7 linked regions of the Homo sapiens genome follow. The protein of the gene in region 5 interacts with the protein of the main gene of each other region in a pairwise test. Each region holds a gene or a part of one and is shown on either strand. Other genes may lie near its edges. The genes, in order: NUCKS1, EMP2, SLC31A2, TSPAN13, GLP1R, CYSTM1 and CFI.

Region 1 (4,115 bases), on a different chromosome or scaffold from region 5:
ATTGATTTCTGATTTAGTTAACAAACTAGCTCCAACGAGGAGAAACCATTAGGGCTCAGAAAAAAATCAACTCATGTCATCAAGTGTGGTTTTATTCTGATAGCACAGAGGATGGGGTAGAGTTCAGAACGTGGAACTTAAACGTATTACTCTAGGTTTGTGCATTTTCACAATTAAGTCTTTGCTGGCTGCTGAGACTGTGATACCAGTGAGGAAAAAAGAGCAGTAACAACTATGATGACACAGTGTTTCTACCACTGTGTCTGAAACAAATAGATCATTCTGAAATCTTGCTCAAGTACTGGCAGTAGTTGAAGAACATGGCTAAGCCCACTAGACTCTTAAACAGGCTAGTGTCTTTATTAATAAGAGATACTTCCAGTTGCAGAATACAAGACCCTTTTAGATTTCTTGTATTCCTGCTAAACATCAGGCCAATGCCAAATCCTAATGAGGAATTTCTGTATTGAAAATAATGATTCTCAAAATTTTTAAAGCAGTAAATTTAATTTCACTTCTGCAGAAATTACCTGTAGCCTTTAGTCTGGGTTTGGGCATTTTCTTTTCTTTTCTTTCAGGTTTGGACTTCTTAACCATCTTTTTGTTTTTCTTTTTCGAACTGCCATAGTCACTATCGTCATCATCTTCCATTAGGAAATCTTCATCGCTGCCGGAATCTTCTGAGAAGAAAGAAGAATTTCAACATCTAACTTAATGTACACATCCTTCCAAGTAAAAAAGGAAGAGAGTGCTAAGAATGACTAGAGGATGGGATTTGGGAGTCAAACACCCTTGGATTCTATTTGGAGCTGTACTACCAATTTGACTGGAGTCATCACTGGCCTCATTTGTCAAATGGATTTTGCATGCACCTTACATGAGAGAGTTACATGAGTGATGTGTTTGAAAAGTAGATTGAAAACAGGAAGGGTAAGAGTTAATCTGAATAAAAACTGAAACTATCAAATAACTTTTGGTAGTTCCATCACTTCCAAGTAGTACTGGTTGAGACCAGGGAAACAAAACTGAACTGACAGGGCCTTTTTGGTCCAATTATGAATAAGTGAAACAAGAAAACCAAACACAAAACAAAAATACATAGGATTAACTAATCTGAATAACCTGTGAAACACCTAAATTTTATTATTAACATGTTTTTTTCTGTGAAAAGAGGTCTACAACCTCCTCCACCAGGGCAAAATACAAATCTCAATCACAATGCCTAATGTGACTGTTACTTAAGCAAATTGTTCATTCAGTGTTTGAACACAGACATCATTAAATAAAGGGTGCAACCATTACAAATGGTGGGCAATCGTGAGAATCTCTGAACCTTTAAAAATATTAACAGGAACCAATACAGTCATCTCTTTTAACACGGAGTATCTACCCAATTTAAGGGACTGGTTGTAACATTTAGCATCCTAGAAAATGCCAAAGTAACCAAGGTCACAAACTACAATTATGACCAAACAACCAAAGTACACAAAACAACTTCACATACTCTCCTGGAATGGTGCCTCATCCTCCTCTTCTTGTTCTTCCTCACTGCCCACATCTTCCATGAGCATCTCTCTCTGTTTAGAAGCTGCTTTAGATGCCGCCTGCCGTTGTTGGCGCACATTTTTATGATCTTCTTTTTCATCTTCACTATCCTCTGCAATATCAGAATTACCATGATATAATGATTAAAGAATTTTATATTTGACAAGATAGTGCAAAAGATTAATAATTGACTGAAAACATAACTGACTGAAAAGGCCAACACAGTGGCCAATATAGGATATAATCTGCAGCTTTATTTCATTGTAAAAGGGCAAATTCTATCCTTCAACATTTCTGCAAAATGATGGAATCAACTCAAATGCCCATCAATGATAGACTGGATAAAGAAAATGTGGTACATACACACCATGGAATACTATGCAGCCATAAAAAGGGAAGGAGATCATGCTCTTTGCAGGGACATGGATGGAGCTGGAGGCCATTATCCTCAGCAAACTAATGCAGGCACAAAAGACCAAACACTGCCATGTTCTCGCTTATAAGTGGGAGCTGAACAATGAGAACACATGGACACAGGGAGGGGAACAACACACACTGGGGCCTGTGGCGAGGGAGGGGGCAGGGTGGGGGGATGGAGAGGGAGAGCATTAAAAATTAGCTAATGCATGCTGGGCTTAATACCTAGGTGATGGGTTGATGGGTGCAGCAAATCACCATGGCACACATTTACGTATGTAACAAACCTGCACATCCTGCACATGTATCCCACAACATAAAAAAAAAAAAAATTCTACAAAATGTATAAAGGGGACCTAAATTCACAAAGAATGAACTTGGACAAGACTATGTAACCACTATTACATATAAAGTAACAAGGGAATGTAATTTTAAGCAGTAGACAAGCTGAATTAAAGCGTGAATACATGACTCCTATACTTTAAAGTTACATCATTGCTTTGCTCTACAATTCTCAATTACATTCAAATCTATGTTCACTGTTTTTGAAAGCTAAAGTTAGAAAAATATCTTAACATAGTATGAGAGAGAAAGAATGTCTTCCAATAATCTTTATTCTAAGACATAAAACACGAAAACCCTAAAATAATGTCAAACTGTTACCCTTTACAATGAATGGCTTGTGACCATTTCAATTTAGAGGGGATTGTGGAAAACCTTTTTTTTTTTTTTGAGATGGAGTTTTGCTCTTGTTGCCCAGGCTGGAGTGCAATATAGCGCAATCTCGCCTCACTGCAACCTCACCTCCCAGGTTCAAGCGATTCTCCTGCCTCACCCTCCCGAGTAGCTGGGATTACAGGTGCGCACCACCACTCCTGGCTAATTTTGTATTTTTAGTAGAGACAGGGTTTCACCATGTTGGTCAGGCTGGTCTCGAACTCCCGACCTCAGGTGATCCACCCTCCTTGGCCTCCCAAAGTGCTGGAATTACAGGCGTGAGCCACTGCGCCCAGCTGGAAAATCTTTAAAATACATATTTAGATTAATTAGTGAAAGACATTTGGAGAAGCCTATAAAAAATTTACTTTCACATATTCTTAGAGTCTATTAATGAAAAAAAAATTTTTTTTTTTTTAATTTGGAGTCTCACTCTGTCGCCCAGATTGGAGTGCAGTGGTGCAATCTTGGCTCATTGCAGCCTGTGCCTCCTGGGTTCAAGCTATTCTCCTGTCTCATCCTCCCGAGTAGCTAGGACTCCAGGCACATGCAGCCATGCCCGGCTAATTTCTTGTTGTTGTTTGCTTGTTTGTTTTTTGAGATGGAGTTTTGCTCTTCTTGCTTAGGCTGGAGTACAACAGTGGGATCTCAGCTCACTGCAACCTCTGCCTCCCAGGTTCAAGTGATTCTCCTGCCTCGGCCTCCCGAGTAGCTGGGATTACAGGCACCCACCACCACACCCGGCTAATTTTTTTATTTTTAGTAGAGAAGGAGTTTTGCCATGTTGGCCAGGCTGGTCTCGAACTCCTGACCTCAGGTGATCCACCTGCCTTGGCCTCCCAAAGTGCTGGGATTACAGGCATGAGCCACCGGGCTCAGCCAAATTTTTGTATTTTTGATAGAGACAGGGTTTTGCCATGTTGGCCAGGCTGGTCTTGAACCCTTGACCTCAGGTGATCCACCCACCTTGGCCTCCCAAAGTGCTGGGATGGCGGGTGGGAGCCACCATGCTCAGCCTAAAAAAAATTTTTTTAACACACAGTTGTGTTTGTGAATAAATTTGGTTAAAGGGTAGGCTGCCAGCCTACTGCCTCTAGACTAAACCATATTTGCCTTAGTCTCTACCTACAGCCCTTTTCTGAAAACACTTCTAGTCCCATGAGCCTTGCCATAGTCAGTGTTCAAGTCATCTCTTTCACTTTTAAAAATCTCATCTAGAGACAAACAGAATAAAGCTGACATGGCCGACCCAAAACTAAACCCACTTGGTAGAAGCTTAGCTTAATACTAGTACAGAGTTATTTATCTAGAAGTGCTCAATAAACTAGCAAGTGTAAGAGATTCAAACTAGGATTTACAAGGCAAATGACTGAAAGCATATACTCTATTATCACAGGATCACCAGATAGTGCAAAAGATTAATACAGTTTCTTTTC
Region 2 (4,115 bases), on a different chromosome or scaffold from region 5:
TTTTTTTTTTTTTTAAAGACAGAGTCTCACTCTGTCACCCAGGCTGGAGTGCAGTGGTGCAATCACAGCTCACTGTAGCCTTGAATTCCTAGCCTCAAGCAATCCTCCCACCTTAGCCTCTGGAGTACCTAGGACGACAGGTGCACACCACCACACCCAGCTAATGTTTATTTTATTTTATTTTTTGAGACAGAGTCTTGCCCCGTCACCCAGAGCTTGAATGCAGTGGCGTGATCTCAACTCACCGTCACGTCTGCCTCTTGAATTCAAGCAATTCTCCTGCCTCAGCCTCCCAAGTAGCTGGGACTACAGGCATGTGCCACCACACCTGGCTAATTTTTGTATTTTTAGTAGAAACAGGGTTTCTTTACATTGGCCAGGCTGGTCTCGAACTCCTAACTTCAAGTGATCCACCCACCTCGGCCTCCCAAAGTGCTGGGATTACAGGCATGAGCTACCACATCTGGCTGGCTAATTTTTATTTTATTTTTTTGTAGAGATGGGGTCTCACTATGTTGCCCAGGCTGGTCTCAAACTCCTGGCCTGAAGCGATCCTCCTGCCTCGGCCTTCCAAAGTGCTGGGATTATAGGCATGAGCCACCATGCCTGGCCTGGTATGAGTCTTAAAGGTCTTAAAGGATAAAGAATTAGCTGGACAGAAAGAGGAAGGCAATGTGGAAGAAGAAGAAGGGCGAGGGAAAGAGCAGGTAGAAGCAGTGGTGAGAGAGGATTAAGAGTTGCAGGAACTGGCAGGGGCCGGTGGCTCATGCCTGTAATCCCAGCACTTTGGGAGGCTGAGGCGGGTGGATCATGAGGTCAAGAGATAGAAACCAGCCTGGCCAACACGGTGAAACCCTGCCTCTACTAAAAATACAAAAATTAGCTGGGCGTGGTGGTGTGCACCTGTAGTCCCAGCTACTTTGGAGGCTTAGGCAGGAGAATCGCTTGAACCAGGGAGTCGGCGGCTGCAGTGAGCTGAGATCGCGCCACTGCACTCCAGCCTGGTGACAGAGCAAGACTCCGTCTCAAAAAAAAAAAAAAAAAAAAAAAAAAAAGAGTTGCAGGAACTAAGAAAAAAGAGTGGGCTAGAGGAGAAAGCAACAGGGGAGAGTGATGAGTCCAGAGAAGGGGTTAGACCAGTACGTCTCACCACCAACCACACTGGGGGCACCTTAAACCCCTGTGCCCTGGCCCCTGCCTCCAGAGATTCTGATATCATTACTTTCAGGTGGGGACAGGAAATCAGCATTCTATCCAGATTCCCCAGGAGATTCGGAAGGTCAGTCAGCCAAGGACCTCTGAGTCAGATCATGTAAGGCCTGGTTTTTGCTTAGGAGCAGTTGAAACTACTGAAGAATTTTAAGTGGGGCAGGGGAAGAGTGACTTGGTCAGCTTTGTGTCTCTATCAGATCCTTCTGGATACGTATGGGAAACGGACTGCAAGGCCATAGTGGCTGCAGGGATACAGGTCATGGAGCTTGTGCAATTGTCAAGGCAAAAGATGGCAGCGGTCTGGACCAAGATAGAAGCCACTGAGATGAAGAGAGGGGATGGATTCCAGAAGGACTGAAGGTTTGCATGAAGAGACAGAGGACTGCTCCAGGCTTCCACTGTAAGCCAGTGATGGGCGGTAGTGGTGTATACTGAGAGGCCACCACTGTTGGCTCAAACACCAGCCTGGTCCACTGCTGTCAGCCTCTCCTGGGCTCTAGGCCCTGGGCTTTAGGGCTCATGACCATCCATCTGAATTTCAAGGCACTTTCCACATTAATAAGAGAGAGGACTCAAGGCTCCCTGGCCACATTTTACTCAAAACATCATATCACCTGATGATCTAAATATATTCAAAAAAGTCAATGAGGGAGCAGGAGAAAGAGGGAATTTTTCATTTTTCTTCTGTACCCTAGACAGACAAGGGCAAAGACCCTTAAAAGATTTAGGTTGCAGCTGGGCACAGTGGTTCATGCCTGTAATCCCAGCACTTTGGGAGGCTGAGGAGGGAGGATCACTTGAGGCCAGGAATTCGAGAGCTGCCTGGGTGACAAAGCAAGACCCCAGTCTCTACAAAAAATTTAAAAATTAGCTGGGTGCACCTGTGGTCCCAGCTACTCAGGAGGCTGAGGACAGAGGATCACTTGAGCCCAGGTGTTCGCGGCTGCCGTGAGCTGTGACTGCACCACTACACTCCAGCCTGGGTGACCCAGCGAGATCCTGTCTCAAAAAAAAAAAAGATTTAGGTTTCTCTTGACCCTCCCACAGATGATCTTCCATCCACTGCTAGATAAATTCCATTACAGGGGCCGAGTCCATCTTTGTTCACTACCCGGCACATAGTAAGCGGCCAATAAATATTAGAATGAACACGTGAGGAATAAATCAGGATAGATGACCTGTCACAGAACTCCCAAGTTCAGGTATTAAGGATTATCTCCAGAATAAATGTCACAGCCTGGGAGTTAGTTTCCAAATAGCACCTCCTCGACCCTCCACATGTCTGTACACAGCCCACCTGTAGCACCCCGCAATCCAATTCTCTGATCCCACTGGCATCTGCCTACTGTCTTCAGAATGCACCTGTCACCCCTCAGCAGACACCATGTTATTCATGCCACAGTTACTAAGCACTCATTCTGGGACGGATGAGGACCTCAAGGCTGGAAAACTGTGATGAGTTAGAGAAGCTCCCATCCCCATTCCAAAGACAAATGTCCACTATAAGACAACTGGGACCCCAAAGCATCTCCTCCATCAGTTCTATGAGAGAAACAGAACCCTCACTTCACAGTGAAAGGGAGTGGTCAGCATGGGTTTATTTTGGCTTTTTTTGTTTTTATTTTAAGAGATGGGGTCTTGCTCTGTCACCCAGGCTAGGGTGCAGTGGCACAATCTCAGCTCACTGCAGCCTCAAACTCCTGGACTCAAGCGATCCTCCCACCTCAGCCTTCAGAGCAGCTGGGGCTACAGGTGTGTGTCACCATGCCTGGCTAATTTTGCTATTTTTTTGTAGAGACAGGGTCTCATTATGTTGCCCAGGCTGGTCTCAAAACTCCTGTGCTCAAGCAATCCTCCTGCCTAACCCTCCCAAAATTCTAAAATTACAGGCCTGAGCCACCACACCTGGCCACGGTTAACCCCCATGAACAGCATCCAGACTGGAAACACATTATGTTCATTGGCATCTGCAATGTGATGTTCCAAGGGGGATGCTCCATGTGGACTGGATGACACCTGCTCACACTGGTCATCATTTCCTTGTCTCTGGATTTTCAAAACAGTCCCTAACTGGTCCATCCATGGAGTCTCTGACCCCCCACAGCCAAAGGCATCATCTCTCCCCATCCTCACACCTGCACAACCTCCATTGCTTACCAAGCTCAGGGAAAATGAGGGCATTATTATTGAAGTCAGTAATTCCTGAAGATACTCTCTTGGTTACAGATAAGGCTTGAGATAAGATTGTATCCTTTCAATCCAGTTCCTTCCCTACCACCCCATCAGAGACAACCACATGGACCTACTCCGATGTCTCCTTCCAGACATTGTTCCTCGTATAAACATGTGAGGCCACAGAAAATACAACAAGAATTTCTGTTTATGTTTATATGAATAATACACTTTTCCACATATACTTCTCCTGGTTGTTCTTTTTTTAAACTCAGTAATGCCATAAAGCTCTTTCCATATGGGTACAATGGATAAACCTTTTTTTTTTTTTTTTTTTTTTTTTGAGACAGAGTCTTGCTCTGTCACCCAGGCTGGAGTGCAGTGGCATGATCTCGGCTCACTGCCACCCCCATCTCCTGGGTTCAAGCGATTCTTGTGCCTCAGCCTCCCAAGTAGCTGGGATTACAGGTGCACACCACCAAGCCCAACTAATTTTTGTATTTTTGGTAGAGATGGGGTTTCACTATATTGGCCAGGCTGATCTTGAACTCCTGAACTCAAGTGATCTGCCTGCCTTGGCCTCCCAAAGTGCTGGGATTAGAGGCGTGAGCTACTGCGCCCGGCCCCTTGTTCTTTTTAACTGCAGTAAAATACTCTGCAAAATGGCTGATGGATATTTAGGTTGCTTCCACTTTTCCTTTTCTCTATTTCTCACCTATCATTGGATATTC
Region 3 (4,115 bases), on a different chromosome or scaffold from region 5:
TGAGAACCAGTACAGGCTTTCCAGAAAACTCTCTGGCTCTGGGTACCTGATTGCCGAGTGACCATGGGGAGATAAGTGGGCTTTTATGTACCTTCCTTGTTAAAGAGGTTAATAATAGTAGGCACCTGCGGAGATGTCACAGGGAGTGACACATAATAAATGGAAGGTGAACGTGGTACAGGCACATGCAGTCCCTCAGAAGACACAGAGCTGTGTGGCTGTTCTGTCCAATCAGATGCTTTCACATTTCTTTCTCTGTCCTGCAGCTCCACGGTCTCCAGTGAGCCCAGTCCCTGGGTAGGCGCAGGCAGGGGTTGGTGACACAAGTCAGACCCCTTTTGGCACTGAAAGGCATGTTAGCTGAGTGTAGGGAGTAGAACAGCCAGGTTAGTCCCAGGTCTCTACCAAACCCCAGGCTGCAGCGTCCAAATCTGAGAGATGCATAGATGTGGTGCCCCATCCAACCCGGAAACAGAGGCACACTCACTGTTATTGTTGTTGTTTTTGAGACAGAGTCTTACTCTATTACTCAGGCTGGAGTGCAGTGGCATGATCTTGGCTCACTGCAACCTCCACCTCCCGGGCTCAAGTGATCCTCCCACCTCAGCACCTCCCAAGTAGCTGGGACTACAGGCACATGCCACCACACCCAACTAATTTTTGTATTTTTTGTAGAGACAGGGTTTTGCCATGTTGCCCAGGCTAGCACTTTTTTCTTTTACAAGGTTTCAGGAAGAGTAGATAGAGTTCAAGATGGGAGCCTGTGAAAGTGAGGCCAAACCAAGGGAAAGGGTTCCTAGAGTCCTGTCCTCATCTTACAGACGAGGAGACTGGGTCCACAGGGGGCTTTCTGCGTGTCAGCAGCTCAAGGCCACGCAGCTGGTTCCTGGCAGAGCTGGGAGGGAGATCCAGGCAGTGCAGCTTTAGAGACCGTGCCCCTAACCACTAGCCTTGCTGCCTCTGTTCAAACTGCAACAAAGTGAACTGAGCCTCAGAATCTCCTGAAGGGGGCTGGTTAAAATCTATGTCTTCCCTGTCTCCTGTGGCTCTGACCCTGGACTCTGATTTAGGGGCCTGAGGAGGCCCAGGAATCTGTACTTTTAATAAGGCCCTGGAGTCTAAGCAGCTGCTGCTGTCCCTCTACACTAAGCCGCTTGCCAGTGTGGAGCTCATGATTGGCCTGTGGTTTCCCAGTGATTCACCCGGGACTGACTCTGCCTCTGTGGATCCGGCTATAACAGCATCGTCATCCACACCTGTGATCCGCTCCAGTGTCCTCCCTCCCACCCTATCCTCTTTGCCTTTTCATCCTGTTGTCCGCTGTTGTCCCTGGGCTCTGGTCTTACTGTCCCATCCCCAGACTGGTCCTTGTTTGTTTCCTTTATTTAAGGTGCACTCTTCATCTTTCTCAGGAAATATGGGCCAGCTATTGGCTGAACATCCTTCGGGGGCTAAGCATGACTATCCTAATTGCACAGAGGCTTTTTCTCATACATTCCTTCCTCTCCCCAATTTCTTCCCATATTTTGTTCCAAAGTGGCCATATCAGTTTCTTCTGCTGTTTGCATATCTTCCTGAAATGTTAAAACAACCGAACGACAGCACAGCCCTCATCTCTGTCTAGTATTGCACAAGAAAGTGGGCTGTTCTCTGTGTTGTAGCATCTGTTTTCCTCTTGCCAAATGAGGGCCTGGTAAGAAGACCCAGGATCCAGTCCTGATGCTGCCACCAACTCACAGTGTGACCCTGGGCATGTCACAGCTGCCCCTTGGACTTCCAGTGCTGCCCTGAGAAGCTGCATTGAGAGCAGTTAGGAGCACAGAATCTGAAACCAGCCCACCCAGGCAAAATTCTAGCTAGCAACTTGGCAAGTTACTTAAACTCTGTCTGCCTTAGTAGTCTCATCTATGAAATGGAGCTAAGAATAATAATTCCCCTCTTGAAATTGAGTGAGTTAAGACATATAACATTTTTAGAAGAGTGCCTGGCACAGAATAATCAGTGTCATTTCCCTCCCAGCATGAAAAAAGAGGGTTGCTCTAAATTAGCACTTCCTAGAGGATAGTCTATGAGATTCTTTCCCACAGGGCACTCAGCAAGAGAAAAAGGGGAGGAGAGAGTTCTGGGTACAGGCTTCTGGCAGTGCAGAAAGCTATTAAACCTTATTTTGTCTAATTCCAGTCTCTCTCAAACTCCCTTGACCATAGAATCCATTTTTCCCAGTACCTCCTAGCATCCTGTACTTCTCCCATGGAACACTTCTGAGAAACACCCCTCCAGCTTTGACATGTATGGGAAAAAAAGGCACTGGGGTTATTGAGCCCTTACTGTGTGTCACTTTGTGTGGATGGCTTTGCAGAGTTTTCCCCCAGCTCCCCTCGGAGGAAACTGAGGCCAGAGAGAGGCCCTGGTTAACAAATGTGTTTTGTTCCAAATCCTGGACTCAGACTACTATTCTTTACTATCTCCTTTGGTCCTAACTGTTGAGAGGGGGAGGATTGGAGACGACTAGAACATGCAAGGCCTGTGGTTTAGGGCTGTCGTCTGCAAGCAGAAGTTTGTGGCTCTGGTTTCCAGGAGGCTACAGGACACCCACATGGCACAGCTTCCTGACAAAATGGCAGCTAATCAAATCTGCCTACCTTTCCACCCCCACACTGACGTTTGCCTCCACCGGAACTCCTTTTCTGTAAGAACTGATGGCCCCCACAGCCTTCACAAGTACCCACAGTCTCACTCCATATCTTCCTCCCTTGAACAGAAACTGAGAGTAACCCGCTTATAAGGAGGTCCGGCAAATCCTTTTCCCTCTTCATACTCATTTTCCTCACCTGGAAATGAGAGGGGGTGGAGAGGGACTCAAGTTGGGCCAGATCAGCATTTTTCAAACTGAGTTTCATCAGAGCTCATATTTCTCTCCCCTCTCCACCCTGAGCCCCGTGTTTTACATAATGGAATTAGAAGAAAGATTTTAATTGGCTGGTGTTCCCTGGTGAAGAAAGCTGAAAGCCATGGGACTAAAAACTCTGAGGATACCTCTAGTGCTGAGATTCAAGGATTCTAATATTTGGCCATTGTCTTAGAAGGCAAAGGCTTCCACTAGCTGATTACAACTCAGCCAGGATCTCCTTAGCTGGGTAACACTGACAGTGTTTGCAGAACTGCTTGTGCTAGCTGAGGGCTTACCTGGGGACCAGAGGGGGCCTTCACTTCCCTGAGAGGGTGAACTAACTGATAGATCTGTTGGGCCCTCATCTTTCCAAACAGTCATTAAGCCTGGTGTGGGCGTCTGAACTCACCATCCAGCTCCCACTGTACCCTCCTTTCTTGGAGATTGGGAGGAAGCACCGTGTCCTGGAATGTCCAGGGCTTTGGAATCCAGCTAGACTCAGGTTTGAATCCCAGCTCTGCCAACTTACTAGCTTTGTGACCACCAGTAAATTACTTCTCTAAGTCTAGTTTCCCTAACTTTCCTTCCTGTAAAATGGACCTAATTGTCCCTGTCACACAGAGGACTGTTGTGACAATGAAATGAGATGATGTAGAAAAAGCCCTTGATGCCACCCTGAACACAAGGTGGAGCAAGCACCCTCTGAAAAGGCATCTGACAGGCACTGCATGGTCACTGCTTTTACCTGCAGTCTTTCCTGTAAGGCTGTGAACTCACCAAGGTCAGAGACATTAACCTACTTCCATAATGCTTGGCACACAAACTGGGCTCAGCAAATGTATAGTGAATGAGTAGGCAGATGTGGAGTACAGTGAAGACAGCTGCCTCTGGGCCCCTCCACGATAAACACTGTGGGATCTGTCTAGACTGAACAGGACAAAGAGGACTCCAGGCTTCCATCACACGGGAGCCTGTTCTGGAGCTGCAGCAGAATGGCTAGGGTCCCGGGGGGGTAAGAAGAGGCAGTTGCACTTGGAAGGCATGGAGGGGACATCCCCACATAGTCTGAGGACACTGTCACATCCCGAGCCAGTTGGTCCAGTGAGGATGGACACTCCCACACCTCTATTCTCATATGGAGCATGGCCAGCTCAATTATAGCTCTGCTGCTGACCCTCTTGGGCAAGTCTCAGCTCTTTATGGCCTCAGTTGGCCCTGATGACTT
Region 4 (4,115 bases), on a different chromosome or scaffold from region 5:
AATTATTTTAGGTACACTTAGTACTAAAAGTTACAGGCTCCAGCTTTATACATTTTCTGCAGGGATGACACATTTTATATATTAAACACATTTACTAGGGTCAGCTTCTGGAGGTTGGTTGGAACAATACGGCAAGTGCTCGAAATGACATCCAGAGAAATCTAAACTGCTGTGGGTTCCGAAGTGTTAACCCAAATGACACCTGTCTGGCTGTAAGTACATTGTATAATATATGTTTTTGGAAATGTATTACAGATAAATAATGATTAATGTGGAAGAAATGGACTTTCTGATGCTGAATTGTATTTTCAGGATTATTTTATGTATATATTTACATTATATTTCCATGTCCTCTGTTATATCATTTGCCTGTTCTCAAATACCCACTCCAGAGAGTGTTGAGAATTTCAAGGCCCTATTGGACACAGATGCTAATGGTTTATTGTCCCTAATTTCTTCCCATCCTTCTCTTCCTAGAACAAGTTGTGAAAGAAATAATAGTACGTCAGTTCATGTGTTCATATTTTGGGGAAACTCCTGTTATCACATCTCTGAGCCCTAAGCTGAATATTTCCTCAGTGAGGCTTCTTTTGTGAGATTATCTCCTTGTAGGGGGTCTGTGTTATGTTTCTGTTGCTGCGTAACACATTATTACACAGCAATAGAAACACACTGGCTTTAAATATCCATTTAGTGGCTTTAAATACCCATTTATTATCTCACAGTTTCCCTGGGTCAGGCTTGGCTGGGTCCTTTGCTCACCTGGCTGAAATCAAGGTGTCATCTGAGGCTGCAGCCTCATCTGAAGCTTGGGGTCCTCTCCCCACGCTCAGTGGTTGTTGGAAGAATTCAGTCTTTGTGGCTGTGGGACCACCCCTGTTTTTTTGCTGCCTGTTGGCTGGAGGTCTCTCTCTGCAACTAGAAGCTGCTCTCAGGTCCTATGTTACTCTTTCACAATGTGGCAGCATCAAAGTCACTGTGAGAATCTCTCCATTCTGTTAAGATGGAGTCTTTTGTAATGCGTAATGGAGTCTTATCTGATGTAAGGTAACATGGAAGTGACTGTCCTATCATATTCACAAGTTCCACGCATACTCAAGAGCAGTGATTGTATAGGGTGTGTACACCATTGAGAGGGGAGGGTGGGAGTCTTGGGGGCTGTGTTAGAGATTTGCACACTAAAAAACCAAGGCCTCAAATTGGATATAATACTCTTAGACACTAATTTTGTGTGTATGCAGTTTTTATGGGCTTTTTATAAATGTATTTTGAAATAAAGGTTTTTTTACTTTAATTGGTGCAGAGCTGTGTTAAAAGTGACCACTCGTGCTCGCCATGTGCTCCAATCATAGGAGAATATGCTGGAGAGGTTTTGAGATTTGTTGGTGGCATTGGCCTGTTCTTCAGTTTTACAGAGGTATGTGCAAATAACAATATTTTTCCTCCTTTGTCACAGAGATTCCTGTTTTGCATGACAAAGGGCCTTGATTCTTGTTATCAGTGAGCATTTTCATTGAGAACTAGCACTGTAAAAAGAGGAAACTTGGTTTAGAATCAGAAGATCTTACAAGTCTATTAATAGCACCAACTTTAGGACCGGGTGAAAGGCTTGATCTGTCTCTTCTTATGTAAAATTTAATGAACTAATGAGTGAGATTAGATTGAATTATCTCTAGGGTCTCTTCTATTTCTACAGTTGTGTGATGAATTATAATTTTAAATTTAATTTGGAAAAGGTAGGACATTCACATTGTTTAATATGTATGTTAATGTCTATAATACACAGACATACATATATAAAAAGATTATATATCTTTTTATATATATCTTGAAAAATTGCCTTCCTACACCATTTTTCATTCCCCTGTTCCTAGCCTTCTAAAACCTATGCATAATGTCTATATGTGTATAATGTATTGTGTATAATATGCAATTAATATATAGTACAATATTTATGTATGTGTATTTATCATATATTTTATTCAAGTTCAGTTTCTTTTTTTCTCATCAAGAATGAAATATGTACATTTGGCTGTCATTAACAGCATAGGAAAAAAAAAGACCAAGATTAATATTCTTTTTTTTTTTTTGAGATGGAGTCTTGCTCTGTCACCCAGGCTGGAGTGCAGTGGCACAATCTTGGCTCACTGCAAGCTCCGCCTCCCGGGTTCACGCTATTCTCCTGTCTCAGCCTCCTGAGTAGCTGGGACTACAGGCGCCCGCCACCACGCCCAGCTAATTTTTTGTATTTTTAGTAGAGACGGGGTTTCACCATGTTAGCCAGGACGGTCTGGATCTCCTGACCTCGTGATCTGCCCACCTCGGCCTCCCAAAGTGCTGGGATTACAGGCATGAGCCACCGTGCCTGGCCTAGTATTCATTTTTTATTTTTATTTATTTATTTTATTTATTTATTTTGAGACAGAGTCTTGCTCTGTTGCTTAGGCTGGAGTGTAGTGGTGCAATCTCGGCTTACTGCAAGCTCCACCTCTTGGGTTCAAGCGATTCTCCCACCTCAGCCTCCCGAGTAGCTGGGGTTACAGGCATGCACCACTACACCCAGCTAATTTTTGTATTTTTAGTAGAGACAGGGTTTCACCATGTTGGCCAGGCTGGTCTGGAACCCCTGGCCTCAAGTGATCTGCCAACCTCAACCTCACAAAGTGCTGGGGTTACAGGTGTGAGTCATTGCACCTGGCCCAATATTCATTTTTTTAAAGTTCCTTCTGACTTCCCTCTTTAGTCTGACCATTTTTTCATTTCACTGTTTCTCAGAAAAGAGCTATCTGACTTGTGAGTTGGTTGTGACATTAATTCTAGAAAAATGATATACAGCTTGACAAGAATTCTGTGCATTTCTCTCTTCTTTTGTTTAAAAACCATAGATTTTTGTTATGAAAACTTAAAAATACAGATAGAGAAAAACTGGAGTAATTTCTCTCTACACATCAGCTAGAGTCAGCAGTTATCAGAATTTTGCCACGTGGCTTCTTTTTTATATCTGGAATTTATTTTGAGAATTTAGTTCTTTTGAGCAGCCCAGTTTTCTTGTCATCAGATCACACTGCCTTCAGTTATGCTATTTTTTAAGTAGGAGTTCTTTAAAAATAGAACTCATGAGTCTTAGATTTCTAAAGTGTTCTTTCATGGAATCCTGCTTTATATCTTACATACTGTCTCCTTTGGAAATCTGGCTAGAGATTTTTATAACTTATGCAACCTGGTTTTTTAGATAGTGATAGTGGTAGGCTCTCACTTTTTAAGTTTATATTTTGCTCAATATTCACAGAATCACAGATTCTCAGAATTTGAAGGGATGCAGTTACTTAGCTGACAACTTCTTCTCATAGGTGAAATAGAAAGATTTGATTTGAACTATTTATTATACCTTTAAACAAACCTAAACCATGAGAGAAACATTGATTTAGAATCTGAAAAAAGCTATGATTAATATATGTTCTTTGTAGTAACTTGAGAAACTACAAAAAATTATGAAGATGAAAAATTAGACGTAGCTACTAAAATTACCTACTCAGAAACAATCATTTATATTGTGGCATATTTCCTTCTGCCCGTTCTATATTTAGTAAAATGAGTACCAGCTTATTGCATATTCTACATGTACTTTATTTTTCTACATACATTTTCATGTTATGAGCAATATATTTTGGTGACCTACTGCACACTGAGTGTAGGTTCTAGAGACCGCAGAGTTGATGACATCTAATCAAAGTTACCTTTGAAAAGTGCCCTCTTAATCATGAGCACTTTTGTAAGCTTGAAGTTCAATAATTATCCAGTTTTGATCTTTTTGCATTTTGGATGTAGCCTTCCTTTCTATCCCTCTCTGAACAGTCGGGCAAGGAAGGGGAGAGATTTTCCCCTTTTGGCGCTTATAGCCAAGTTGGAGGAATACAATTCTGGTAAAATGTGGCTCCGGATTATGAGTATTTAGTTTGTTTGATTGCTTTCTTCCCCCAAGGACTGTGATTTACCCTCTCAGCATATATCCAGGGGTGATAGTCAAAATGTTAACATCCTCAAAAATTCTGACCAGAAGCTCCCTGTGCTGAAAATTTCCAAGGTGGGGAGCTTTGGCAAGTGATATTTGGGCA
Region 5 (4,115 bases):
TGAGAATCCACCATTCCTTCTGAGTGTTTTTGTGCACTTCCTTCAGCTATGTCTTGGGGTTGTCGTTCTTTTTAGTTTTTTCCTGAACAGCCTTAAAAATTATAAATATTCGTCCTTCAGAGGCTGCAGATGCTGAAATGACCCAAGAGCCCCATGTATAAAATGTAGGACCCATACATAATTTAAAACAACATTTTGCTTTTTGAAATCACAAAAATGTCCACGTGTGCTGAAATTAAAATAGCTTCTTTTTAGAAGCTTGCCCCCTTGCCTTGTAGCGTGCTGGGCACATGCTGGATCCAGTCTCGGGTTCTAGCTGGCTTATCACACACCTCCCTGAGAGACTTGGGTTGCCTTGCTCACCCCTTGCTGCCTCGGAGGCCCCATGGAAGGGCCCAGCTCACTTTAAGCCCCAGCAGCATCCTTGGCATAAGTGTGCCAAGGCGGCAGGGGCTACCCTGAAGGACAGAGCTCTTCTGAGGGCAAAGGTCAACTGTATTTGCTTGGGGAAAAAAAGAACAAGAAATCAAACATAACAGCTGCAAAGGTGTTGTCCATGATATTAGCCACAGCTGAGGAGGTGGCACAGTTTTCATCAGAGCAAGTCCTGGTGGATCAACCCCCACCGCCCCGTTTCCCTTCTCACTTCTTCCCTCTTCTCCGGGTAAAGGGCTCTTCCATGCTGCCCCTAAATGCAGCAGCTGCTGGGGGTGGAGGGCAGAGAGACGGAGAAATCCCCCTTGGTTTCTGTTTCTAGAATGAAAGCAGACCACACACAAGGTCACTGCTGGGAACTGGGGCAGAAGGTGTGTCTGGGGCAGGCAGAGAGGTATGGAAGCCAGTTCTTCCCAGAGGCGGGGGGAGGGGTTAACGACAGCGCCATGAAGGCCAATCTGGCCTCCTGCACCCCAGGGCAGCGCTGTCACCTACTCTGAGCAGAGCTGTGGACATAAAACTATATTCAGACTGGGGCTCCCTGAGGACGGGGCTGTGTCTCCCCTCAGACTGGAGCTTCCTGAGGATGGGGCTGTGGCTCCCCCTTAGGTGAGGGATTCCTGACAGTAAGAGTATCTTGTCCCCTCCCTACACCAGATCAGGGCTTCTAAATACCTTCGAGCCTTCATCCCACCCCTGCAGGCACACACAGTGCAAACTACCCAGACTTCTGGCCTCTCCCACGCCTCGTATTTACAGAAACCATAACTGTGCCAGGTTCTGGGTGGTCGTGGGTGGAGGGGAATGCAGGGAGTATAAAGGTGACTGCAGGAGCCCTGCCTGAGAGAGTCTTCAGGCTACTCGGGGGTCAATGCTTTACAGGACAAGTGACATAACAGGGAAGGCAGTGGGTGAAAGTGTTCAGGGAGTGGTTGGGGCAGGGTTCAGTGCAGACTCAAGAGGCCTGAGGGATTGGGGACTGTGAGGTGGGGCTGGGGTGAAGGGGGTTGGAGGCAGACTGGGCTAGCAAGGAGGAGGGCGGGCACTTCAGCAGGAGGGCACAGCAGGGAAAAGGTACAAAGGTGGGGACATCAGTGCTCCGGAGAGCAGAGGAGAGCTGTGGACTGTTATCAGGAGGATTTTTTGGGGCAGGGAGAGAGTGGTGGTGGGCCCTGGGACAGATGGGAGGTTCTGGTCTGGGGAAAGACTGAGTAAATGAGGCTAGGGCCACCCAGTGCCATAGGGCCTGGGTGCCCAGGTAACATAGTGGAGGCTGAACAACCCTGGCCTTGGGCTCAGATCTGGGCCTGGACCTGGGTCACCCAGATATTAGGTTTGCAACCGAGTGCAAGAGTTGTATGTTTTAGGCTCAGCTTACACTTGTGCAAAAGGGAACAGCAGCCCCTCCCCCATGGGATGGCTGTGGGGACTGAGTTAATGCTTAGGATGGTGGGCACATGGAGAAGGCTCAGTCAATGGCAGCAATCCCCATGATTTCTACTGTTTAGTGGAAAGGGCAGAGTGGGAGGGAGTGACCAGGCTTCCTGGGGACTGGGGCCCCACCCCTTCCTCACTTCTAGGATCAACATATTCCCAGAAAGAGGAAATGAATATATGTTCATGTCCAATGACCAATCATTCTGCTTAATTTGTGAGATCTTCCAGCAGTAACCACAGCCAATGGCAAAGTGAAGCAGGGAGGAAGCTTTGGACCCCATGCCCTGTGAGGAGGGGCAAGGCCCTGCCCACCAGTGTCCCCCACTCCTCCATTTCATCCTCCCACAACATAAGTCCCTGCTGCAAGCCTGACAAGGTGGGGCTGTGGGTTCTGGGTAGCGGGAAGGATGCAATCCAGATGTCCCTGTCCCTCACAAGGCAGCAGAGCTGACCAGGAGAGCAAAGCAGCGGTCAGAGGGGGTCTAAAGGGCCATGGGAAGGGCAGGATGGCAGTTTCTAGAATCAAGACTTGACAGGCTTCATGGGATCTCTCTGAGGTGGATGAAGGCACGTGGAGACGACACCTGGGTTGGAGGTTACAAGAAGGAAGGGGCATCCCTCAGATTCAGGAGTTTTTGGAGGAAGCAGGAGACAGGAAAGAGGACACCAGGAGGGAGTGGTGTGGTCTACAGGAAGGAGCACTGGACAGCGATTTATAAGTTCTTGGTCTAAATCCCAGCTCTGTTAATGCAGGACTGTGGGACACGATTTATCTTTTAGGACCTCAGTTTCCTCATCAGTTGCCAGTTCTGCCGTCCATAAAATGGGCATATCATTCTTCTCAAACTGCACAGATCCAACAAGATAAAGCAGGTGAAAATCTTTGTGACTTCTCAAGCCCTGTACAAGCAGGCAGCGTTGGAAGGAAGGACAGCAGAGAAGGAAGCAGGTGGAGTGGAAGCCCCCGGGGTGGTGGGCTTTCCAACACCCCAGGAAGGGGCTCCCTCTCCAAACACTGGCTGCCAATCTGAAAGGCACTCCTATTTCTCAGTGCGAATAAGTGTATCAGATTCTTTCTTTCTCTGGGGACCATTTTGGTGACGGGAAGGAGGTGGCACAGAGGTGGGAGACATGCAGGAAGGCCTCTCAGAAGGAGGAAGGAGGGATTCCAACTCAAATTTCTGGAGTCCCCCAACTAAGTCCAGCCCTTCAGGTTCCCTGGCATCTCCTCCCAGGACCCCAACCTCCTTCCTCTGTGTCACCTCCCAGAAGTCAAATCACCCCTTCCATCAACAGACCCCTGTCTCTTTGACCGCCCCTTGTTTTTCTTTCTTTCTTTCTTTTTTTTCAAAAGCTCAGAGCTTACAATCCATTTTTTTTCCCTAAGGGCTTTAGATATCTGAACGAAAGGACAGGAAAAGGAATACTACACACATGTTCTTACAGTCACAAAAACCCCCACGTGGACACACGGTCACACGCATCATCACACACGCCCCCAAGCACATTCCCAATACTGAGACACTGACACAGACTCTCTCCCACCACACACAATCACTCACAGACTGCCAGGTACACAGTCGCATGCTGAGACACTGTCCCCAACACACACACACAGAGGAACACACAGACACTCTCACATGCACACTATCTCTCCTGCACATATAGACACACACTAGTTGACACCCATTCACACACCAAGATGCCCCCCCCCCCACACACACACACAGACCCTCCCACAGACACAGTATCATATGCAGGGTCACAAAAACATAGACACTGTCAGATGTACAGTTGCATGCTGAGATGTTGCACACACAGGGACTCATTCCCACACAGACTGTTACACACAGGGTCACTCACACATACCTGGGAACTGGGGGTTCATATAGCCTACTCCCTTCTCCCCCTGGTCTGTCTCAGACTACCTGTCTGTATCTCTGTCCCCTCCTCCAACCACCACCACCACCACACACACATAGGAATTTTCCTAGGGGCAGGCTGCAGCTGAGGAAGCCTGTTTTGCCTTGGTGCAAGGCATTCGAGGGCAGGATGTGGTTTCTTGGTTGCTCCTGCCCCAGCCCCCAGCCTGGGTCCTGTCCAGGAGGAAACCCAGCTTAGAACAATGTCCGCACTGATCAAGGCTCAGCCCTGGACTCCACCTGCCATTCACTAGAGTACAGAGACCCAGGGTCTCCAACAGCCCCTCTCTCATACTATCCTGCAGCCCTGGAAAACACTTC
Region 6 (4,115 bases), on a different chromosome or scaffold from region 5:
AAGCACTTTTTTTTTTTTTGAGATGGAGTCTCACTGTCGCCAGGCTAGAGTGCATGGTGTGACCTTGGCTCACAGCAACCTCTGCCTCCCAGGTTCAAGCCATTCTCCTGCCTCAGCCTCCTGAGTAGCTGGGACTATAGACGCGTACCACCACGCCTGGCTAGTTTTTGTATTTTTAGTAGAGACGGGGTTTCACCATGTTGGCCAGGCTGGTCTTGAACTCCTGACCTCAGGTGATCTGCCCGCCTTGGCCTCCCAAAGTGCTGGGATTACAGGCATGAGCCACTGTGCCTGGCCATAATAAGCACTTTTTAAGAATTAGCTATCTTGGCCAGGCACAGTGGCTCACGCCTGTAATCCCAGCACTTTGGAAGGCCAAGGGGGGCGGATCACGAGGTCAGGAGATTGAGACCATCCTGGCTAACACAGTCTCTGCTAAAAATACAAAAAATTAGCCGGGCGTGGTGGCAGGCGCCTGTAGTCCTAGTTACTCAGGAGGCTGAGGCAGGAGAACGGCGTGAACCCAGGAGGCGGAGCTTGCAGTGAGCCGAGATCGCGCCACTGCACTTCAGCCTGGGCAACAGAGTGAGACTCCGTCTCAAAAAAAAAAAAAAAAAAAAGCTGAAAGGGCTAATTAAGAGAGCAGCTATTCTGCCAACCAAAGGGCTACAAAATAGTGACCAAGACATCTAGCACAGTGCTCCTCAAGATGTTTTACTTTTAATCTTTCAGACTGATACTTTCTGTAAAATGCAAGATTACATACTTGGATGTCACAGCAAAACCAAATTGCTCTAAAAGTTTCTAAATGTTTACTCTCACTTTCTGTACATATAATATAGTCCATAACTGTTCACTGTTCATTGACTGGCATTTGTCTACAGACTGAACTTTGAGTAACACTGTTCTATAGCACACAAGAAGGACTCAAGAGCCTCCTGAAAACTCAACTGGCAGGTTAAATAGAATTATGAAAACATTTAGTAAGAAAAAAAAGAAAAACCCCAGTAGCAGGGGCAAGAGGATGACTTGAGGGTCAACAAGCTGACAGATAAAATAAACTCAAGAGGCTAATTACTAAACCTAAAATACAAAGCTGGCTACAGAGCAAAGACTCAACTGCTAATTCCTTCCCCACCCCCAAGTGCTCTAGAGGGTAGCCCTCAGAAAACACGTTGGCCAGGAAGTCATCAGCCCCAGAGGGGACAAGAGGTGTGAATGTAGCAGGCAGAGCTGACTTGGGCCTCTTCTCAGGAGTGAGAATCCACCCTAAGCCATCATCAAGCTTTGGGGACATCAAGCACAAGTTGCAAAGGCTGGAAAGAATTTCTTCTCTGCCAAAGAAAACATGCAAACATTTCCTTTAGTGACACGGGACTGCACACCCACATATTCAGAGACACACACCTGTGGTTTTAGGAGGCTCCTGAGGTCCACCCTGCCAGCCGTACTGTGGGTATCCTTGGTAGGGGTACCCTTGAGGAGGTGGGTAGGGTCCCCCCATAGGTCCTGGACCCATTGGTTGTGGTGGATAAGGTGGGTATGGGGCCGTTGGACCAGGGCCTGGATATGGTGGAGGGTTCTCTTGGTTCATCGGGGACCTGTAAAGTGCACCTAAGAGACAAAAAGAATGAAAATTATTTGCATTTAACTGTGGAAATCATCAGGAATAAAATCCTAACCCATAAGATCATTTACAAAATACCTTCAAGGTGTATCAAGCCTTGTGCAAATCTCTAGCTCTGCCCATTTTGTTTCCTTCTCACCATCACTATAATTGGCAATTATCTTATATATTTATTTGCCTTTTGTCTATTTCCTCCACTAGACTGTAGGCTGTGACAGTAGATATCAAGTAAGTTTTGGATCACCACCATGTCCCTAGAGCACTGCAGAGTGCCTGGTACAAGGCAGTCCCCTAAATAAATGTGTTAAATGAATAGCAAGATATTTTGTTTTTTAATTCCTCTGAAGTGTCCATAAATGTGATTGGATAGCTTTAAGAAAGTGTTCTAACAGCACTATGAGTCTCATCAGTGGACGCTGATCCACTACTAGAAACCCTCCAATCAACAGGGCTGGGCCACAGTGGGGCCTTCTAACGAGCAGCACTGGCAGCAATGACCAACCAAAGTTTGTAACCATCACCATTGCTCTGGGGATTGGGGTGATCTGGTTGTTCTCCCCAGACCCGCTGCTCTGAGCAGTTGGACAGCGCTGTTTATAGAGAATGCCAAGCGTCTCCTCTGCCCATCCAGGCCCCTGAGACTCTGGAGGGCTCACCAGGAACATTTATTTGTGTTTACAGGACCCTGTCCTCCATGGTTTGCTTCTGTGAGGGAAGCCACGCTTCCCAGCCCCCAAGCCTGTTAATCATTCTCTTGATTGGGCTTGAAGTTTTCAGGGCCAGCGTCTTGTTTCTATTATCTCTTTAAGTTCCACAGTGCCTGGCACGGTGACTTTCAGATTAAAAACAAACAAATGGCCAGGTGTGGTGGCTCATGCCTGTAATCCCAGCACTTTGGGAGGCCGAGGCGGGCGGATCACGTTGAGATTGAGACCATCCTGGCTAACATGGTGAAACCCCGTCTCTACTAAAAATACAAAAAATTAGCCGGGCATGGTGGCATGTGCTTGTAGTCCCGCTACTCAGGAGGCTGAGGCAGGAGAATCGCTTGAACTTGGGAGGTAGAGGTTGCAATGAGCTGAGATCGTGCCACTGCACTCCAGCCTGGGCAACAAAGTGAGACTCCGTCTCAAAAACAAACAAACAAACAAACAAACAAACAATTACTGGGGAATGCAAAGTATAAACTCTAAGGATGACTCACTTAACATATCATCTGTCATACTGCTGCCTTGTACTGTTACCCATATCTTACATCAATAGTTAACTTTTTACCTATTTGAGTGTCTTCTATCCCCAACCAAATAGTAGGGAAGAGTCTCAGATTCAAAATGTAATAATTTCACTATTAATTCTTTTCCATAACAGGCAATCAACAAATTCCTAAGTGACTTTATTATATAAAGGACAGAATAGTTATAAATAGTCTAGGTTCCCTAGAAAATCTGGATTACAGTAGCAGTGGACTTTGATGGTTGCCCACACAACATCCATATTCTCCCTTCCTAACAGGAGTCAGGTTTCCAGGTAGATCTCTGCTCATTCTTCCTGTAGTTCATGTGCTTCAGGGAAAGCTCATCCCATCCAGCTCCAGGGTGAACCCAGTCTATCTAAGCCAATCGGGGTCACTCTCTCCACTTTTTTATCATGATTGATTCAAGGAATTCAGGACTTTACCCAGATGCAAATGGCACTCCCTGGCCACTGGGACTGGTTCTGAAGTGGTTCAATCAGTAAAAAGCTCAGACTCTCTTAACACACTCCCACCGAACCTTCCCTTCCCCTGTACAAAGGTATACACAAAGTCTAGGAAAGATTGGCCTACAAAATTGCTGACAGCCAATCTGCAGCCCTGAGAAGGAGCCAGTTTTAAGATTAAGTGGGCCATTCAGAAAGGCAGAGCAGAAAAAAGGAAAGAAATGGGATTCCAGATGACTTTATAACAGCTCCTAAATCAAAGACTAAAGCCTGGCCTAACCTAAACTACCTCTATCGAATTTCCAGTCCTGGAAACCAATGGTAAGGTAAGGTAATGAACCCTTCTGGGTGACATTCACAAACATACATTTATTAAGTGCTTTCTTGACACTGGGCTAAGTAGTGGGGTATAGAGATCAATATGCCTCAAACCCTACCCTTGTGCAACTGGCTGAAACAAACATAAGGAAAATGATTTTTAGAAAATGTGGTAAACAGACTGCTGGGTAGGAGTAGGCGCTTAAACCTAGTAGAAGGAGGTGCTGATCAAGAGAGTGTCATTTGAAGGAGTTGATTATAAATTGAAACTCTATGTTATGGGATCAAATGGCTTGAGGGTCTCTATTTCAACCACATCTGTATTGCCTCCCATTTTTGACACCATCTTATTTTTCCAGGGCCTGAAAGGGACTCAGGAAAAAAGTAGAGTTCTTTCCCTTCTCTGCGCTCTGGTCTGCAACTGGCAACACACCCTGACCTAGGAACCCTAATGCAAAGGCTCATGGTGATT
Region 7 (4,115 bases), on a different chromosome or scaffold from region 5:
GACTTCATGTCTAAAATACCAAAAGCAATGGCAACAAAAGCCAAAATTGACAAATGGGATCTAATTAAACTAAAGAGCTTCTGCACAGCAAAAGAAACCACCATCAGAGTGAATAGGCAACCCACAGAATGGGAGAAAATTTTTGCAATCTACTCATCTGACAAAGGGCTAATATCCAGAATCTACAATGAACTCAAACAAATTTACAAGAAAAAAACAAACAACCCCATCAAAAAGTGGGCAAAGGATATGAACAGACATTTCTCAAAAGAAGACATTTATGCAGCCAAAAGACACATGAAAAAATGCTCATCATCACTGGCCATCAGAGAAATGCAAATCAAAACCACAATGAGATACCATCTCACACCAGTTAGAATGGCGATCATTAAAAAGTCGGGAAATAACAGGTGCTGGAGAGGATGTGGAGCAATAGGAACACTTTTACACTGTTGGTGGGACTGTAAACTAGTTCAACCATTGTGGAAGTCAGTGTGGCGATTCCTCAGGGATCTAGAACTAGAAATACCATTTGACCCAGCCATCCCATTACTGGGCATATACCCAAAGGATTATAAATCATGCTGCTATAAAGACACATGCACACGTATGTTTATTGCGGCACTATTCACAATAGCAAAGACTTGGAACCAACCCAAATGTCCATCAATGATAGACCAGATTAAGAAAATGTGGCATATATACACCATGGAATACTATGCAGCCATAAAAAATGATGAGTTCATGTCCTTTGTAGGGACATGGATGAAGCTGGAAACCATCATTCTCAGCAAACTATTGCAAGGACAAAAAACCAAACACCACATCGTCTCACTCATAGGTGGGAATTGAACAATGAGAACACATGGACACAGGAAGGGGAACATCACACACTGGGGCCTGTTGTGGGGTGGGGGGAGGGGGGAAGGATAGCATTTGGAGATATACCTAATGTTAAATGACGAGTTACTGGGTGCAGCACACCAACATGGCACGTGTATGCATATGTAACTAACCTGCACATTGTGCACATGCACCTAAAACTTAAAGTACAAAAAAAAAAAAAAAAAAGAATGGTATGACTGCCATCTTGACCATGAAGAAATCCTAAAAAAAAAAAAAAAAAAAGAAAAAAAGAATCAGACAAACCTGGCTTCTAGACCCAGTTTTGGCACTTACTGTTACATGATGCAGGGCAAGTGACCCTCCTGAAACGTGAATTTCCTCATCGTAAAATGAGATAATATCTCCTATTTTGCAAGATTAGAAATACTATGTTTGTAATGGTTGACAGGTACTAGGCATAAAATTAATGAGAGCTATTATTACCCTGCAGGACTCCAGTAGAAATAATATGAGGGCTGGGAACAGGCCAATTGGGCCAAAAGCCAATCTGCGAAGAAAAGCCAATGCTGTCTCCCTGTCCCCCAGAGCTTCCTCCTGAGGATGCGCCTCCTGTCCTCTAGTCTCCCCTGCTGCCCGCAGTGAGCCCCGCTCCTTCCTCAGTGCCCTGTAGCTGTGAAGCATCAAGCTGGGGCAGACAAAAATCATAGTCTTTAAATGCCGTTAAGAAGGCAAATAAGCTAATTAAAACCATGCAAAACCTTGCAAGGATTGTCAAAGTCATTCTCCATAATTTGCTTTTCAATAAACTGTACAAATAGCTTTACACACACACACACACAAATGACAAATTGGTCATTCTGGAAACTGGCTTTTGACACAGTGATCTAGAATGAAATATGCCAGTTACGCACTTTTCATGGTTCCACGTATCTCTTTTTGGCACTTATTAGAGTTGGAATTTTTGTAATAATTTCTCTCCTGTATCTTCCACTGACCAGCTTGCAAGTGTCCTGACAGCAGGTTTTATTTATCACCTTTATATTGAAACAATGATGCTCTCATTGGATGAGAAATCCAAGCAACTTGATTTTTTTCTACCTTTATTCCTTTAAATCATTTCTGAAATCTCATTCCTCCTTGATCTTTGGATAGAAACTTTGGCAAGTGTCATAACTTTCTCAGTCACTCTTAGATTTAAACAAAAACAAAAAATTAAAGGATGTTTAGTTCCAGGAATAGTCACTAAATAGCAATGACAATGTCTAGTGCTGTGGAACCACTGAAGCTCTGACCTTCATGTCAGATGAAAGCCTCTCCTTCCTCTCAGCTCAGACTTGCTTCCAGGGTGTGTGATGGGTCCTTTCTGAGCTCTCCTCCATTCCACAGCTTTCAGGTCATGCTTTCCACCTCTCAGGAGAGGAAGAGAGGGACAGCAGCCGGGTCTCACCTGATTCTTACGGCTGAGAACTAGCCTTGGCAAGGTGGGGGTTAGAGCCAACTCTCTCATGCGGGGTACTATGAGGTTCTCTAGAGATTGCACTACTGGGGACATTTGATGTCAATTCACTCAATGCTGGCAGTACCTCTCCTCCAGCTGGCTGCTCATGGTCCATGTCTTCTCAGCTCCAGTATCCAACAGTACTAGCCCGTTTCTGCTGAGGTTGCTTACCTTTGGCAGGGAGCCTCTTGGGCAGGAGTCCTGTTTCCCTCCTGAGGACCCACACCTGTCTGTTGCCTGCCCTGCTGCCTACCATTGAAACAGGGCTTGCTCCAACACAGCCACCTCTTTTATCTCTGCCACCAGGCACCTCCAGCCTTGGGTCCTTATTCCTTTCAGGTATGGGTCAAGTACTAGTTCTTTTTTCTCCTCAGACTTCAGGGAACACATGTCAAGCACTCCAAGGGAACCTGTGGGAAGCCCTTTCACAATGAAGAGAAGCGGCAGCACCTTCCATCCTCTTTGCCTGGGGTGCAGGTGGGAGATGGAAGGGAAAACGCTACCTCACTCTGTTACATAAAATTACGGGAAGCCATTTTTTTAAACTGTACTCCTGCACCAAGCCCCAAAGACCAAACCAAAATGGAGTCACTTATGCTAAGTGGCATGTAATTAAACTGAAACTTTAAGGAAATGGGAAACCACACATTGGTGAGTTGAGGCTGGAATGGGAGGTGAGGAAGTGGAAGTAGAAGCTTGACTGGTTTTGACTAGGCACAGTGGCTCACGCCTGTAATCCCAGCACTTTGGGAGGCTGAGGTGGGAGGATCAGTTGAGGTCGGGAGTTTGAGACCAACCTGGCTAACATGGCAAAACCCCATCTCTACTAAAAATACAAAAATTAGCCAGGCATGATGGCACCTGTAATCCCAGCTCCTCAGGAGGCTGAGGTAGGAGAATCACTTGAACCCGGGAGGTGGAGTTTGCAGTGAGCGGAGACCGCACCACTGCACTCCAACCTGGATGACAGAGCGAGACTCCATCTCTAAAAAAAAAAAAAGAAAAAAAAAGAAACCGCTTTACTGGTTTTGCCATTTAGACATGAAAATATGAACACAGACCAGAAAAAAAAAAAAAAAAAAGAAAGTCTCTGTCTCCTCTCCAAGCTCTGTTAAATTGAGAATACAGGAATTTTTTTAAAGGGCATAAACCATAAGGTCAAAGAGAGTGGGGAGAGGACTGCAGGATATAAGATATCAAAATGTTGGAAGCTGGAAAACAGATGGGCTAGTGCTAATGGATTTAGCAGATCAAGGAGAACTGAAAGCTAAGCCCCACAGAACCCCAGAAAAGCTTAGGAACTGGGGGACCTAGTACCTCTGAAGAAGGAGTGGCTAACAAACAGGGAACTGGTTGAAAGAGATGGTTGTATGAACATGTTACTGAGGAATCTGTTGTAAACAGCAGAAGAAACAGCAAAGATTTGAAAGTGCTTGCCCCTGGAGAGAGAGTTAGGGGTGGGAGACGGGTGATAGGAGTGCTTTTCATTTTAAGTAAGATCTGATGTCCTTATGCTTTCAGTAGGGAAGTAGAAGATTAGGGCCAGGCGCAGTGGCTCATTCCTGTAATCCCAGCACTTTGGGAGGCTGAGGCCAGCGGATCATGAGGTCAGGAGTTCGAGACCAGCCAGGCCAGCATGGTGAAACCCCAACTCTACTCAAAATACAAAAAAAATAAAAAATAAATAAAAAAAATTAGCCAGGCAGGCTGTGCATGGTGGCTCATGCCTATCATCCCAGCACTTTGGGATGCTGAGGCAGGCAGATTGCCT

What was found.
Region 1: the proteins of GLP1R (region 5) and NUCKS1 interact in a protein complementation assay, tested with the Homo sapiens proteins (one study listed by BioGRID).
Region 2: the proteins of GLP1R (region 5) and EMP2 interact in a protein complementation assay, tested with the Homo sapiens proteins (one study listed by BioGRID).
Region 3: the proteins of GLP1R (region 5) and SLC31A2 interact in a protein complementation assay, tested with the Homo sapiens proteins (one study listed by BioGRID).
Region 4: the proteins of GLP1R (region 5) and TSPAN13 interact in a protein complementation assay, tested with the Homo sapiens proteins (one study listed by BioGRID).
Region 6: the proteins of GLP1R (region 5) and CYSTM1 interact in a protein complementation assay, tested with the Homo sapiens proteins (one study listed by BioGRID).
Region 7: the proteins of GLP1R (region 5) and CFI interact in a protein complementation assay, tested with the Homo sapiens proteins (one study listed by BioGRID).

Annotation. Positions count from the first base shown.
Region 1 is NC_000001.11:205,718,997-205,723,111, forward strand, and holds part of NUCKS1 (nuclear ubiquitous casein and cyclin-dependent kinase substrate 1), read right to left. Parts: intron 1,658-4,115; coding exon 1,505-1,657; intron 681-1,504; coding exon 531-680; intron 1-530.
Region 2 is NC_000016.10:10,570,229-10,574,343, forward strand, and holds part of EMP2 (epithelial membrane protein 2), read right to left. Parts: intron 1-4,115. UniProt on the Homo sapiens protein: Functions as a key regulator of cell membrane composition by regulating protein surface expression. Also, plays a role in regulation of processes including cell migration, cell proliferation, cell contraction and cell adhesion.
Region 3 is NC_000009.12:113,153,484-113,157,598, forward strand, and holds part of SLC31A2 (protein SLC31A2), read left to right. Parts: intron 1-4,115. UniProt on the Homo sapiens protein: Does not function as a copper(1+) importer in vivo. However, in vitro functions as a low-affinity copper(1+) importer.
Region 4 is NC_000007.14:16,777,700-16,781,814, forward strand, and holds part of TSPAN13 (tetraspanin-13), read left to right. Parts: intron 1-98; coding exon 99-212; intron 213-1,303; coding exon 1,304-1,417; intron 1,418-2,648; exon of another isoform or gene 2,649-4,084; intron 4,085-4,115.
Region 5 is NC_000006.12:39,051,368-39,055,482, reverse strand, and holds part of GLP1R (glucagon-like peptide 1 receptor precursor), read right to left. Parts: intron 1-4,115.
Region 6 is NC_000005.10:140,191,945-140,196,059, reverse strand, and holds part of CYSTM1 (cysteine-rich and transmembrane domain-containing protein 1), read right to left. Parts: intron 1,615-4,115; 5' UTR 1,595-1,614; coding exon 1,408-1,594; intron 1-1,407.
Region 7 is NC_000004.12:109,767,226-109,771,340, forward strand, and holds part of CFI (complement factor I isoform 2 preproprotein), read right to left. Parts: intron 1-4,115. UniProt on the Homo sapiens protein: Trypsin-like serine protease that plays an essential role in regulating the immune response by controlling all complement pathways.